2 separate regions of the Homo sapiens genome follow, and region 2 is linked to region 1. The links come from fine-mapping of genetic effects on gene expression. A gene starts in region 1. The other region holds a variant in brackets. All regions are shown on one strand. Distances are between the middles of the regions.

The links.
Region 2: its variant is fine-mapped to the expression of CGAS in whole blood (INTERVAL, PIP 0.99).

Annotation. Positions count from the first base shown.
Region 1 is chr6:73,447,397-73,455,731 of GRCh38, forward strand. CGAS (cyclic GMP-AMP synthase) reads right to left here and starts at 4,901. Exons shown (of 5, transcript NM_138441.3): 1 at 4,129-4,901. The coding sequence starts at 4,785. RefSeq lists a silencer at 4,323-4,532 and an enhancer at 4,703-5,182.
Region 2 is chr6:73,426,398-73,434,732 of GRCh38, forward strand. CGAS (cyclic GMP-AMP synthase) reads right to left here. Exons shown (of 5, transcript NM_138441.3): 4 at 2,312-2,414. Among named protein-coding and RNA genes, the nearest start is that of CGAS, 22 kb to the right of the region's middle. The variant G/C (reference allele first, on the strand shown) is at 3,377.

The DNA.
Region 1 (8,335 bases):
CCTCAGCCTCCCAAGTAGCTGGGAATACAGGCGCGCACCAACACGCCCAGCTAATTTTTGTAGTTTTAGTAGAGACAGGGTTTTGCCATGTTGACCAGGCTGGTCTCAAACTCCTGACCTCAAGTGATCTGCCTGCCTCTACTCCCAAAGTGCTGGGATTATAGGCGTGAGCCACCATGCCTGGCCAAAGTTTTCAATTTTTATTTTTTAGAGATGGGGTCTCTAGGCTGGAGTACAGTGGCTACTCACAGATAGATCATAGTGTACTGCAGCCTCAAACTCCTGACTTGATGTGATTCTCCCACCTCGGCCTCCCAAATAGCTGGGACTATCAGAATGCACCAATGGACCTAGGTTTGATATTTTTGATGATATTCTAAATGGTATTTTCATTTTGTTTTTAATCTTGTTAGTATATTGAAATATTTTTATTTTTGTTTATTGACTTTGCAACCAGCAATTTTGCTAATTTACTAATTATTTCCAACAGTTTATATGTGAAGCCAATCAAGTCATCTACACATAACGATTTCATCACTCTTTTTCCCATCTTATGCCTTTATTTTCCTTGTCTTGCTGCATCAGCTGTATGTATTCCTTTACGTTCTTTTTGTTGTTGTTCAACATTATTTATGTAATTCATTTTCACTGTTCATGTTGCTGTAGTTTGTTCCTTTTCTTTACCAGTTAATATACCATTACTTAAAACCACTGGCCGGGCACAGTGGCTCACGCCTGTAATCCCAGTACTTTGGGAGGCTGAGACGGGTGGATCACCTGAGGTCAGGAGTTTGAGACCAGCCTTACCAACATGGAGAAACCCCATCTCTACTAAAAACACAAAAAATTAGCCAGGCATGGTGGTGCATTCCTGTAATCCCAGCTACTCGGGAGGCTGAGGCAGGAGAATCGCTTGAACCTGGGAGGCAGAGGTTGCAGTGAGCTGAGGCCACCCACGCCATTGTACTCCAGCCCAGGCAACAAGAGTGAAACTCTGTCTCAAAACAAAACAAAACAAAAAACAAACAAACAAAAAAAACTACAATTAATTGATTTCTATGTAACCTTTTCACTGAGTCCAAACTATATAAATAGTAAAGTACATTAACACTTAGAATGAAAAGAACATATGGACTGACAATTCTACAGGGAATTTCTACAAGAAACTTCCCATGTATTTTCGAGATTTTTTTTTACCTAGAATTTGTAGTCCCAGGTAGCTGGGACTACCTGTGTGTGCCACCACATCCAGTTAATTTTTAACTTATTTTTGGTAGAGCTGGGGTCTCACTATGTTGTCCAGGCTGGACTCAAACTCCCGCCTCAGCCTCCCATGGTGCTAGGATCACAGGCATGAGTCCACTGTACCTGGCCCACATATATCTCATAATCAGTAATAGAAAAAGTTTTAGGCTGGGTGTAGTGGCTCACGCCTGTAATCCCAGCACTTTGAAAGGCTGATGCAGGTGGATCACTTGAGGTCAGGAGTTCGAGACCAGCCTGGCCAACATGCTGAAACCTTATCTCTACTAAAAATACAAAATTAGCCAGGTGAGGTGACGCCCGCCTGTAATCCCAGTTACTCTGGAGGCTGAGGCAGGAGACTCACTTGAACCCGGGAGGCGGAGGTTACAGTGAGCCAAGATCACATCACTGCACTCCACCCTGGGTGACAGAGCAAGACTCCATCCCCAAAAAAAAAGAAAAAAGAAAAAGAAAAAAAGAAAAAGTTTTAGATAAAACAAATTTCACTGGATTTCTTTTCATTGGCATAATTTTTAAAAACAAAGTGGTTCTGGGCTGGGCATGGTGGCTCCCACCTGTAATCCCAGCACTTTGGGAGGCCAAGGCGGGAAGATCATGAGGTCAGGAGATAGAGACCAGCCTGGCTAACACGGTGAAACCCCGTCTCTACTAAAAATACAAAAATTAGCTGGGCATGGTGGCGGGCGCCTGTAGTCCCAGCTACTTGGGAGGCTGAGGCAGGAGAATGGTGTGAACCCAGTAGGCAGGGCTTGCAGTGAGCCGAGATCGCGCCACTGCACTCCAGCCTGGGTGACAGAGTGAGACTCTGTCTCAAACACACACACACACACACACACACACACACACAAAGTGGTTCTGAATGGAGACTGTCTTCTGAATGTCTTGTTCTCTAATTCTAACTAGTAACTTTCTTTTTCCTTTGGACCCGCCATATACAGTAATTGAACTGAATTGATACTTACATAATAAGAATCATGCTCAATCAGAGACATATCTGATGCTGAAAAGTAAATTAGTTAATTAAAAAGAATCATGCTCAAGACACAGTCTGGGCTGGGTGCCGTGGCTCAAGCCTGTAATCCCAGCACTTAGGGAGGCCGAGGCAGGTGGATCATCTGAGGTCAGAGTTCGAGACCAGCCTGGCCAACATGGTGAAACCCCGTCTCTACTAAAAATACATAAATTAGCCGGGAGTGGGGGCAGGCACCTGTAATCCCTGCTATTTGGAAGGCTGAAGCAGGAGAATCGCTTGAACCTGGAAGCCGGAGGTTGCAGCGAAACCTAGATGGCACCACTGCACTACAGCCTGGGCAACAAGAGTGAAACTCCATCAAAAAAAGAAGAAAGAAGAAAGAAAAGAAAGAAAGAACAAAATAAAGAGAGAGAGAGAGAGAGGAAGAGAGGGAGGGAGGAAAAGAGAGAGACAGAGAGATAGAGAGAAGAGAAGAGAAGAGAAAAAAGAAGAGAAAAGAAGCCGGGTGTGGTGGCTCACGCCTGTAATCCCAGCACTTTGGGAGGCTGAGGCTGGCAGATCACCTGAGGTCGGGAGTTCTAGACCAGCCTGACCAACATGGAGAAAGCCCGTCTCTACTAAAAATACAAAATTAGCCAGGGTGGAGGCTCATGCTTGTAATCCCATCTACTCAGGAGGCTGAGACAGGAGAATCGCTTGAACCTGGGAGGTGGAGGTTGAGGTGAGCTGAGATCGCGCCATTGCACTCCAGCCTGGGTAACAAGAGCGAAACTCCGTCTCAAAAAAAAAAAAAAGAAAGAAAGAAAGAAAAAGAAAAAGAAACAAATCTCTTGCTGGGCAAGAAACACGCTCCAGTCAGGAACCTGCTTCTAAACTTTCAATTTACACAGGAATGATTAATGACTCAATCACCCACAAGCAAATGGAGCTGTGTAATACACACGTCGAAGCAATTATACGGAATGTGTATCTAGAAAGCGTTTTAGTATCTGTAGGAGATATTCTTATTTGTTTGTTTAACATTATACTGTAAGCTTCCCATGATTTCTGTGTAAGAAACTGGGGACAGACGGCCGGGCGCGGTAGCTCACGCCTGTAATCCCAGCACTTTGAGAGGCCGAGACGAGCGAATCAAGAGGTCAGGAGATCGAGACCATCCTGGCTAACACGGTGAAACACCGTCTCTACTAAAAATACAAAAAAAATTAGCCGGGCATGGTGGCGGGCGCCTGTAGTCCCAGCTACTCGGGAAGCTGAGGCAGGAGAATGGCGTGAACCCGGGAGGCGGAGCTTGCAGTGAGCCGAGATAGCGCCACTGCACTCCAGCCTGGGGGACGCAGCGAGACTCCGCCTCAAAAAAAAAAAAAAAGAAAAGAAAAGAAAAAAGAAAAAAAAGAAATTGGGGTCAGACGGGATAGCAGGAGAGGGGGCAGGGAGGAAGAGGGGGAGAGAAACTGAAGATCTTTTTTTCTATGGAGTAAGAGGTCTTCCTCATAGGAAAAAGTCTACGTGGAATTTTTAACAGACCACTTCAAATTATCCAAGTCAATATCTGACTCGGGACCTCAGGTCCACACCATCAAACACTGCCCTGTTACGGAAACTCGATACATGTCGGCTTGCATGAATGAACCCATACATTTGAATTCCCCCGGGAGCAGTGTCTTGAAATTAGCCAGCAATCAGTACCGGTTGGTTGTCTGATCGTTGGATGTGTAGATGAATAAACGAACGGTTTGTCGTTTTACTTAGACTAGGCTACCGAAAAACATGCAAAAGTCTAAGTTACTTCCGAAGGGAAGTGAGGGGCGCGACCCGGGGAAGGTAGGGACTGCGGATTGCGGAAGGCCGAGCAGCGGGGCTCGGCGGGAGGGCGCCAAGCAGCTCACCTTCACGTGCTCATAGTAGCTCCCGGTGTTCAGCAGCCCGACGCCTCTGAACGCGGAGTCGCACTTCAGTCTGAGCAGCAGGTGGTCCACAACCCCTTTCACCATCCCCGCCGCCGTGGAGATATCATCGCGGCTGAGCTTCAACTTCTCCAAAACCGCCCGGAGCTTCGAGGCCCCAGGCGCCGCATCCCTCCGTACGAGAATGGGGGCCGAGACCGGCAGGCCGGGGCTGGGCACGTCCCAGGGCCCGGGCGGAGGTCTTGGCTTCGTGGAGCAGCGCGCGCCCCTCTGGCGGCAAGAACCAGCCCTGGAAAGAGCCGGCTCCCGAGCCGCAGGAGGCTCCAGCCCCTCTGCCCCAGGGGCGCTGGTGGCGTCAGACGGCTGCGTGTCCTGGGCGCGCTGAGGGGCCTTTTTGGCGCGGGCCCCAGTTGCGCGGACGGGCGGCCTCTCCTGGGTGTCCGGGGCGCTCTTTTTCTGCCGGGATCCCGACTTCCTGGCGGGGCCGAACTTTCCCGCCTTAGGCAGGGCGGCCTCGGGGGCAGCCGGAGACTCGGTGGGATCCATCGGGGCGCCCCTGGCATTCCGTGCGGAAGCCTTGGGGGCAGTGGCTCCGGCCTCGGAAGCTCTCTGCATGGCCTTTCCGTGCCAAGGCTGCATGGCTGGCGCTTTCTGTTCCCCGAAAGAAGAATCCGTTTCAGGAAAAGGCCGCAAGAGGAAGAGCCAGCAGCAGCTGTTGGAAACCAAGCACTACTGGCGGGCACACAAGAGTCTGCGACCCGAAGGGGAACCCCAGGCTGGGAAGTCGCTGGGAGCCACGCCCATGCCGCGAAGAGGCTGGCCGCGGCCTTTCCTGAGGCTACAAAAGTCTCGAAGTTTCTAACTCTCCAGGCAATCCGTGCCCCTGTCTTAAGAAGATGAGGTAGGGCCGGGCGCGGTGGCTCACGCCTGTAACCTCAGCATCCGAGAGGCCGAGGCAGGCGGGTCGCTTGAGCTCAGGAGTTTGAGACCAGCCTGGGCAACCCAGCAAGACCTGGTCTTTCTTATAATTAAATATATGTGTGTGTGTGTGTTGCCTGGGCACACTGACTCACGCCTGTAATCCCAGCAATCTGGGAGACCGAGGTGGGCGGATCACCTGAGGTCAGGAGTTCAAGACCAGCCTGGCCAACAAGGCGAAAGAAACCCCGTCTCTACTAAAAAATACAAATATTAGCTAGGCGTGGTGGCGGGCACCTGTAATCCCAGCTACTCGGGAGGCTGAGGCTGGAGAATCACTTGAACCCGGGAGGCGGAGGTTGCAGTGAGCTGAGACGTGCCACTTCACTCCAGCCTGGGCGACAGAGCGAGACTCTGTCTCAAAAAAGAAAAAGAGGCCAGGCGTGGTGGCTCACGCCTGTAATCTCAGCAGTTTGGGAGGCCGAGGCGGGCGGATCACGAGGCCAAGACATCGAGACCTTCCTGGCCAACATGGTGAAACCCCGTCTCTACTAAAAATACAAAAAATTAGCCGGGCTTGGTGGCGCCTGTAGTCCCATCTACTCGGGAGGCCGAGACAGAGAACTGCTTGAACCCGGGAGGCAGAGGTTGCAGTGAGCCGAGATCGCGCCACTGCACTCCAGCCTGGGCAACAGAAAAAGAGTCCATCACAAAACAAAACAAAACAAAACAAAAACATTGACAGAGAAACTTTTCTCTTTCAAGTGAAAGTTTTTTTAAATTTAATTTTGGTTTGAGTTAGGGGGGCGCAATCTCGGCTCACTGCAACCTCAGCCACCAGGGCTCAAGCGATCCTCCCACCTCAGCATCCTGAGTAGCTGTTACTACAGGTGCGGACACCATGCCCAGCTTTTTCTTTTCTTTTTAATTTTTTTGTATACATGGGGAGGTCTCACTATGTTGCCCAGGCTGGTCTCGAACTCCTAGACTCAAGCGATTCTCCCTCCTCAACCTCCCAAAGTGTTGGGATTGTAGGCATGAGCCACTGTGCCCTGCCACAGAAACTTTTTCTTTTCTTTTTTTTCTTTTTCTTTTCTTTCTTTCTTTCTTTTTTTTTTTTTTTTTTTTTGAGACAGAATTTCGCTCTTGTCACCCAGGCCGAAGTGCAATGGTGCGATCTTGGCTCACTGCAACCTCTGCCTCCTGGGTTCAAGCAATTCTCCTACCTCAGCCTCCCGGGTAGCTGGGATTACAGACGCCCGCCACCACGCCCGGCTAATTTTTCGTATTTTTAGTAGAGACGGGGTTTCGCTATGTTGGCCAGGCTGCTCTCAAACTGCTGACCTCAAGTGATCCACCCGCCTCGGCCTCCCAAAGTGCTGCGATTACAGGCGTGAGCCACGGCGCCTGGCCAGAAACTTTTCCCTTTTTTTTTTTTTTTTTCCTGAGATGGAGTCTCATTCTGTCCCCTAGGCTGGAGTGCAGTGGCACGATCTCGGCTCACTGTAACCTCTGCCTCCCGGATTCAAGCGATTCTCCTGCCTCAGCCTCCGAAGTAGCTGGGACTACAGGTGTGCGCCGCCATGCCCGGCTAATTTTTGTATTTTTAGTAGAAAGGAGTTTCACCATATTGGCCAGGCTGGTCTGGGACTCCTTATCTCGTGATCCACCTGCCTCGGCCTCCCAAACTGTTGGGATTACGGGCATGAGCCTCAGCGCCCGGCCAACTTTTTCAATGTAAATTTAAATAGGGTTTTTTAAAAATCAATAAGAAATAAAATAATAATTTTTAAAAAGAAAAAAATTAATAACAAATGAAAAATACTTTGAAAAAAGAAAAAAATAAGAAAGAGAAAATATTCAACTTTTACAAGATGGAATGAAACAAAGATTGACTGCAATTGGAGTAAATACTTCTATTTGACATTTTTTAAAAAGCACAGAAAATCTTTAAAATGTTGTGTAAAGTTTCTGCCTGGTGCGGTGACTCACGCCTATAATCCCGGCACTTTGGAAGGCGAAGGTGGGTGGATCACTTGAGGTCAGGAGTTCAAGACCAGCCTGTCCAGCATGGTGAAAACCCATCTCTACTAAAAATACAAAAATTAGCCAGGTGTGGTGGGCCATGCTTGTAAACCCAGCTACTGGGGAGGCTGAGACGGGAGAATTGCTTGAATCGGGAAAGCGGAGGTGGTAATGAGCTGAGATCAGACCACTGCACTCCATCCTGGGCGACAGGGCAAATGACTCTGTCTCAGGGGGAAAAAAAGTTGTGTAAAGTTCTCTCTTTTTATTTTATTTTATTTTATTCATTTTTGAGACGGAGTTTTGCTCTTGTTGCCCAGGCTGGAGTGCAATGGTACAATCTCAGCTCACCACACCCTCCGCCTCCCGGGTTCAAGAGATTCTCGTGACTCAGCCTCTTGCGCAGCTGGGACTACAGGCGTGCCCCACCATGCCCAGCTAATTTTTGTATGGTTTTGTAGAAATGTGGTTTCACCATGTTGCCCAGGCTGGTCCCCAACAAGCTATCTGCCCGCCTCAGCCTCCCAAAGTGCTGTTACTGGCATGAGCCACTGCACCGGACCTGGCATTTACATTTTAAATCATTCATACTGCTTCAGCTGTTGTGATTCTAGAGTATCTCAATACAGGCTTTCAAATATCTTTTTTTTTTTTTCGAGATGGAGTTTCACTTTTGTTGTCCAGGCTGGAGTGCAATGGTGCTATCTCGGCTCTCTGTAACCTCCGCCTCCTGGGTTCAAGCGATTCTCCTGCCTCAACCTCCTGAGTAGCTGGGATTATAGGCGCCTGCCACCACACCCAGCTAATTTTTTTACCTTTTTAGTAGAGACGGGGTTTCACCATGTTGACCAGGCTGGTCTCGAACTCCTGACCTCAGGTGATCTGCCCCCTTTGGCCTCCCAAAGTGTTGGGATTACAGGCGTGAGCCACCTTGCCTGGCCTTCAAGTATCTATTTCTAAAGCCCCTGATAGAAATGCATATTAGAGGTCAGGCGCAGTGGCTCATGCCTATAATCCCAGCACTTCAGGAGCCCTAGATCTTCTGAGATCAGGAGTTCAAGACCAGCCTGGCCTACATGATGAAACTTTGTCTCTACTAAAAATACAAAAAATTAGCCGGGTGTGATGGCACATGTCTGTGATCCCAGTTACTCGGGAGGCTGAGGCAGGAGAATAGCTTGAACCCAGGAGGCAGAGGTTGCAGTGAGTGAGATCCTGCCACTGCACTCCAGCCTGGGCAACAGAA
Region 2 (8,335 bases), 21 kb before region 1:
ATTATGTTTTCAAATATATGGTTTGAAGTTTCAAAAACACATTTTTTCCCTCTCTTTCCCATTCTTAGCTTAAATATATTCTATGAATTTCTTCAACTGTATAAAGCTAACAGATATTTATACTATTTTTTTTTTTTTTGAGACAGGGTCTCACTCTGTCACCCAGGCTGGGATGCAGTGATACAATCTCGGCTCACTGCAACCTCTGACCCTCCCCTCACCCCCCTCAAGCGATCCAAAATCTTGTTTTGTTATAAAATTATTTTACTTTATTGAACTGCAAATTTAATATAAATTTTTTCTTTTCTAAAATCCACTGATTGTATCACAGAATTATTTACATTATTAAGAGTACCATAGATAATCTGCCATCTCATCTAGTTATTTAGTAGTTGACAAAATGTACTATTTATGAAACTATTTAGCCTTATCAACAATATTTCTTTTTTTTTTTCTTTTTCCTTTTTTTTTGAGATGGAGTCTCGCTCTGTTGCCCAGGCTGGAGTGCAGTGGTGTGATCTCAGCTCACCGCAACCTCTGCCTACTGGGTTCAAGCGATTCTCCTGCCTCAACCTCCTAAGTAGCTGGGATTACAGGTGCATGCCACCTCGCCCGGCTAATTTTTGCATTTTTGTAGAGACGGGGTTTCATAACGTTGGCCAGGCTGGTCTCGAACTCCTGACCTCAGGTGATCTACCTGCCTCGGCCTCCCAAAGTGCTGGGATTACAGGCGTGAGCCACTGTGCCTGGCCAACAATATAGTTTTCTTAATGCTTACTTCAAAGCCTGCATATGAGATCTTAAAGAACCTCTGTGCCTGCATGTTGGGCATTTTTGTTTTGACTTTTTAACTTTTGTGATCTTTATACTGGCCAACTTACTTTATTTATTTATTTATTTATTTATTTATTTATTTATTTAAGATGGAGTCTTGCTCTGTTGCCCAGGCTGGAGTGCAGTGGCATGATCTCAGCTTATTGCAACCTCTGTCTCCCGGGTTCAGGTGATTCTCTTGCCTCAGCCTCCTGAGTAGCGGGGATTACAGGCACGTGCCACTGCGCCCAGCTAATTTTTGTATTTTTAGTAGAGACGGGGTTTCGCCACGTAGGCCAGGCTGGTCTCGAATTCCTGACCTCAGGTGATCCACCTGCCCTGGCCTCCCAAAGTGCTGGGATTGCAGGCCTTGAGCCACCATGCCTGGCCAATACTGGCCAACTTTAGAAACTCAAATGAACAATTCCTTTTCAATCTTAGTTCTTTATGGTGTGTATGCCATCACAAAAAAAAATGGTGGGGTGCAGTGTCTCATCCCCGTACTTCCAAGACTTTGGGAGGCCAAGGCGGGAAGTTTACTTGAACCCAGGAGTTGGTGACCAGCCTGCCTGGGCAACAAAGGGAGACCACCATCTCTACCAATAAAAAAAATTTTTTTTGAGACAGGGTGTCACTATGTCACCCAGGTTGCAGTGCAGTGGCACGATCATGGCTCACTGCAGCCTTGATTTTCTGGGCTCGAGCCATTCTCCTACCTCAGCCTTCCAAGTAGCTGGGACCACAGGCACCAGTCACCATGCCTGGCTAATTTTTAAATTTTTTATGGAGGTGGGGTCTCACCATGTTGCTAGGCTGGGATTACAGGTGTGAGCCAACAGGCCCTCTACAAAATTTTTTTTTAAATTAGCCGAGCATGGTGGCATGCACCTGTAATCTCAGCTACTTGGGGGGCTGAGGTAGGATGATTGCTTGAGCCCAGGAGATCGAGGCTGTGGTGAGCCGTAATTGTGCCACTGCACTCCAGTCTGGGTGACAGAGTGAAAGTCTGTCTCAAAAAAAAAAATTACTCACTTAGTGTTGTTTTCAGTTTGGCCAATCAATCCCTAGCCGTCAACACAACCCAACTATCCCAAAGCAAGCCCAGTATCTAATAAGAGCGACCTTTTGGCCTCCTCCAATTATATGGCATTAATATCCATTACTTTTAAACAAGCAGAATACTAAGACCCATCGAATTGTCATGGCTAGTGCTCATACCCTCTCACTCTGTCCTACTGATACATCTATACAAAAACACATTCATCTGATCCAGGGTTCAGAACTACTATTCCCCGGCCTTGCCTTCTAACAACACCCTTTCCTTGGCCCTTTGGATCTAGCTTCTCTGGTTTCATACTCACACTCTCCCCAGCTCAACCCAATCCTGCCCTGCCCCCCAGACCCAACCCAGCTCAGCTCTTCAGGTCTGAGGTGTGGAGTCAACAAATAATTAAGCATACCATAGATAATCTGTCATTTAACAAAATAAGGCTGTTACCTGCAACATTTCTCTTCTTTGTTTTCACAGCACGTTTTAGATTTTCCATGATTGTTCAAAATTTCCTTTTCGATGTGAGAGAAGGATAGCCGCCATGTTTCTTCTTAATTTCAAAAAGAAAAACAAAAAAGCACTTTACCCAAAGCATCCATATCTAAACAATATTCAAGTGGTTTCCCTCATGAAAATATCCTGGGGCTGGGCATGGGGGCTCACGCCTGTAATCTCAGTACTTTGGGAGGCCGAGGAGGGTGGGTCACCTGAGGTCGGGAGTTCGAGACCAGCCTGACCAACATGGAGAAACCCATCTCTACCAAAAATACAAAAAAAAGTTATCCTGGCATGGTGGCACATGCCTGTAATCCCAGCTACTCGGGAGGCTGAGGAAGGAGAATCACTTGAACCTGGGAGGTGGAGGTTGCAGTGAGCCGAGATTGCACCATTGCACTCCAGCCTGGGCAACAAGAGCAAAACTCCATCAAAAAAAAAAAAAGAAAGAAAGAAAAAGAAAATATTCTGAAAAAATCTTAGGAGTGAATCAAAAGAAGTGAACAGATAAATAATTATGTATAAAAATAAGTACACTGAGACAAAAAATGGGCCTAACCGAAAAAAAAAGGAAGTCACAGTTTAATATAGTTAGCAATAGTAAGATGTATTACCTTTTATATATTGCTAAATTCCCTTTGTTAAATATTTTGTTTCAATAATAATTTGAATCAATTTATTCACTTTTTCTGTACCATCCTTACAGGTTTTATATTAATACAAAATGAATTGGGGACCATTTCCTTTATTCTTATTTATGAGAGTTTGTGTAAATATAGAATGATTTCACCTGGGCGCGGTGGCTCACGCCTGTAATCCCAGCACCTTGGGAGGCCAAGGTGGGCGGATCACAAGGTCGGGAGATCAAGACCATCCTGGCTAACACAGTGAAACCCTGCCTCTACCAAAAATACAAAAAATTAGCCGGGCGTGGTGGCGGGCGCCTGTAATCCCAGCTACTTGGGAGGCTGAGGCAGGAGAATGGCGCGAACCCGGGAGGTGGAGCTTGCAGTGAGC[G/C]GAGATCGCGCCACTGCACTCCAGCCTGGGCAACAGCACAAGACTCTGTCTCAAAAAAAAAAAATTTCTCCCCGAGTCTTACCATGGCTAGCTCTTTTATGCTCTGACCACCCTGTTACTTCGTGGTTTTATACTAGCAAAGTATAAGTAGTTTATAATCTGAATGATTTTTCAGAAAAATCAATCAATATAATCTGTCACATTAACAGAATAGAGGAGAAATACATGATTGTCTCAATAGATGAAGAAAATGAAGCTCTTAAAATCCTATAGTCGTTCATCATTAAAAAAACACCTCTTAGCAATCTAAGTCTAGATGGACACTTGATTCCATAAAAGGTAGATTTTAGAAAACTATAGCAACAATCATTATGTGAGGTAAAAAGTTGGAGAGAGAAATCAGAAAGAAGGCAAAACATCTGCTATCTCTATTTCTGTTCAACATGCACTGGGTGTCATAGCAAGCACAGTAAGGGAAGGAAAAACAGGGTTACACACTGGAAAGGGAGAAACAAAGCCATCATTATTCATAGGTGATGTAATTGCATATATAGGAAATACAAAAGAATCTACAATGCTGGGCATGGTGGTTCACGCCTGTAATCCCAGCACTTCAGGAGGCCGAGACAGGAGACCAGCCTGGCCAACATGGTGAAACACCATATCTACTAAAAATAGAAAGATTAGCTTAGCCAGTGTGGTGGCGTGTGCCTACACATACCACATGTATGTATGTATTTGTATATAGTCCCAGCTACTTGGGAGGCTGAGGCAGGAGAATCCCTTGAACCCGGAATGCCGAGGTTGCAGTGAGTCGAGATCACGCCACTGCACTCCAGCCTGGACAACAGAGCGAGGCTCCATCTCAAAAAAGAAAGAAAATGAAAAAAGAAAAAAAAAATTATGTAAATAAACTCACCAAATCAATTAAAAGAGTTACCAAGATTGTGGATACAAAAATCAAAGGTATTTTGATATATGGTAATAAACAAAAAATGAAATTTTGAGAAAGATGTTACTTACAATAGTATAAAAACTAGCAATTAGGCCAGGTGCAGTGGCTCATGCCTGTAATCCCAGCACCGTGGGAGGCCGAGGTGAGCAGATCACCTGAGATATGGGGTTCAAGAGCAGCCTGGCAAACATGGCGAAACTCCGTCGCTACTAAAAATACAAAAATTAGCCAGGCATTGTGGCACACAGTTGTAATCCCAGCTACTCAGGAGGCTGAGGCAGGGGAATCGCTTGAATTCAGGAGGCAGAGGTTGCAGTGAGCCAAGATCATGCCATTGCACTCCAGCCTGGATGACAGAGTGAGACTCAGTCTCAAAAAACAAAAACAAAAACAAAAAACAAACAAAAAAAAACACCCAACAGTTACCTTCTAGATCTAACTGCTAATGAAATATGGATGAGGCCAGGCACAGTGGCTCACTCCTGTAATCCCAGCACTTTGGGAGGCTGAGGCGGTGGATCACCTGAGGTCAGGAGTTCGAGACCAGCCGGACCAACATGGTGAAACCCCATTTCTACTAAAAATACAAACATTTAGCCGGGCATGGTGGCACAAGCCTGTAATCCCAGCTACTCTGGAGGCTAAGGCAGGAGAATCACTTAAACCTGGGAGGCGCAGGTTGCAGTGAGCCAAGATCGGGCGATTGCACTCCAGACTGGGCAACAAGAGCAAAACTCCCTCTCAAAAAAACAAAACAACAACAACAACAAAAAGAAATATGGATGAAAGCAGAACATGCTAAACGACACTTCTAGAATGCACTCTACAAACTCTCTTTGGGAAACTCTACAGGAAAAATAACCTGTTTCTTCAATGAGTAAATTGAAGTAAATTGAGTAAATTTTATTCAAGGAATAAAAAAGTTATGAAAGAGGAAGTTATGAGTTAAAAGAGATTTAACAGACATATTGGTCAGTCACAATGTATGAACCTTATTTGAATCCTGATCCAAACAGACTGATCCAAACATACAAAAAAAGTATGACACTTACAAGACAAGCGGAAATTTTAATACTGAATAGGTGTTTGATATTAGGGAATTATTACTTTTTTCTTTCATTTTTTGAGACAAGATCTCCCTCTATCACCCAGGCTGGAGTGCGTGAACACAGCTCACTGAAACCTCGACTTCCCAGCCTCAAGCAATCTTCTCATGTTAGCCGTTCCAATAGCGGGACCAGAAGCATACATCACCATGGCTGGCTAATTTTTGGATTTTTTTGTAGAGACGGGGTCTCTCCACCTTGCCCAGGCTGATCTCAAACTCCTGGGGTCCAGCAATCCTCCCACCTCCCAAAGTGCTGGAATTACAGCTGTGAGCCACTGTGCCCAGCTAATATAAGAAAATTATTATTTGTTTATACATTTATTTTTATTTATTTTTATTTTTTGAGATTGAGTCTCGCTCTGTTGCCCAGGCTGGAGTGCAGTGACACCATCTCAGCTCACTGCAACCTCTGCCTTCCAGGTTCAAGTGATTCTCCTGCCTCAGCCTCCTGAGTAGCTGGGATTACAGGCATGCGCCACCATGCCCGGCTAATTTTGTATTTTTAGTAGAGATGGGGTTTCACCATGTTGGCCAGGCTGGTCTCGCACTCCTGACCTCAGGTGACCCACCCGCCTTGGCCTCCCAAAGTGCTTGGATTACAGGTGTGAGCCACCGCTCCCAGTCATTGATTATTTTTTTAAGACAAGGTTTCACTTTGTCACCCAGGCTGGAGCGCAGTGACATGATCTCGGCTCACAGAAGCCTCAACCTCCTAGACTCAAGTGATTCTCCCACCTCAGCCCCCCAAATAGCTGGGACAACAGGTGCATATTACCACACCCAGCTAATTTATTTTGTATTTTTTGAAGAGACAGGGTTTTGTCACGTGGCCCAGGCTTGAACTCCTGGGCTCAAGTGATCCACCCACCTCAGCCTCCCAAAATGCTGGTATTACAAGCATGAGCCAACACTCCTGGCCCAGTCTCCTTTGGTACTGGTTTAAAATTTTCATAATAAAAAGTTTTGGCCAGGCGCGGTGGCTCACGCCTGTCATCCCAGTACTTTGGGAGGCCGAGGTGAGCAGATCACCTGAGGTCAGGAGTTTGAGAGCAGCCTGGACAACATGGTGAAACCCTATCTCTACTAAAAATACAAAAACTAGCCAGACACGGTGGTGGGCACCTGTAATCCCAGCTACTCAGGAGGCTGAGGCAGGAGAATCGCTTGAACCCAGGAGGTGGAGGGTGCAGTGAGCCGAGATCGCACCACTGCACTCCAGCCTGGGTGACAGAGCGAGACTCCATCTCAAAATAAATAAATAAATAAATAGTTTTAAAATAGATCAATTACCTATGAATAAATTAACAAAAGATATACAAAACCTCTGCAGAGAAAATGCTAATGAATGAAGCTGGGAAGTATTAGAGGAGATGTAAATAAGTGGATTGGGAGACTCAATATTGTTAACATATCAACTCTCTCCCATGTTTTTTTTTTTTAATACAGACAGTGTCTTGTTATGTTGCCCAGGCTGGAGTGCAGTGGCAAGATCATAGCTCACTGTAACCTCGAACTCCTGAGCTTAAGTGATTCTCTTGCGTAACTAAGACTACAAGCTACAAGTGCACACCACCACGCCTGGCTAATTTTTAAAAAGTTTTTATAGAGATGAAGACTCACAACTCTCTATAAAAACTTTTATAGAGAGTTTTTTTTTTTTAATTTTTTTTTGAGACGGAGTCTCTCTCTGTCACCAGGCTGGAGTGCAATGGCGTGATCTTGGCTCACTGCAACCTCTGCCTCCTGGGTTCAAGCGATTCTCCTGCCTCAGCCTCCCGAGTAGCTAGGACTACAGGCACGTGCCACCATGCCCAGCTAATTTTTGTATTTTTAGTAGAAATGGGGTCTTACCATGTTGGCCAGGATGGTCTCGATCTCTTGACCTCGTAATCCACTCACCTTGGCCTTCCAAAGTGCTGGGATTACAGGCGTGAGCCACCACGCCTGGCTAGAGTTTTTACACAGTGTTGTCCAAGATGGTCTTGAACCCCTCACCTAAAGCAACTCTCCTTCCTCAGCCTTCTGAAGTGCTGGAATTACAGGCATAAGTCATCATTCCTGGCCCCAAATTTATCTATAGATTCAACATTATCTCAATCAAAATTCCAAAAAGTATTTTGTGGAATCTGAAAAGCTGATTTCAAAATTTATATGAGAATGTAAAGGGTCAAGACTCTCTCAGACACCCTTGGAGAAAAACGAAGTGGTAGAACTTGCCCTAAAAGATATTGAGACTAATTATAAAGCTACATTATGTACAACAACATGGTACAAAGATAGACAAAGATTTTAATGGGACAGAATAAAGAGTTCAGGGATAGCTACACAATACGGTTGGCCCTCTGTATCTGAGGGTTTCACATCTGAGAATTCAACCAATCGTGAATTGAAACCCACAGATATGGAGGGCCAACTGTATTATATCATTTTATGTAAGGGATTTGAGCATCTGTGGACTTCGGTGTCTGCAGGGTACCCTGGAGCCAATCCTGAGGGTCAACTGTACATGACTGTAAAGAAAGGTGGCACGTACCGTTGATAAAATTTGATAAGGATGGCACTTTGCCTCTGTGACCTTCCTCCCCCAAACCAATAACTCTGATCTAATCATAAGAAACATAATAAAGAAATCTCAAGTAAAGGACATTCTACAAAATACCTAACTAGTACTCCTCAAAACTGTTAAAACCAAAAAACTGTCACAGTCAAGAGTAGCTTAAGGAGACATGACAACTAAATGCAATATGGTATCCTAAATGGGATCTTGGAACAGTAAAAGGACATTAAGAAAAACTAAGGAAATCTGGATAAAGTATATAATTTTTTTTTTTAATGGAGTCTCGCTGTGTCTCCTAGACTGGAGTGCAGTGGCATGATCTTGGCTCACTGCAACTCC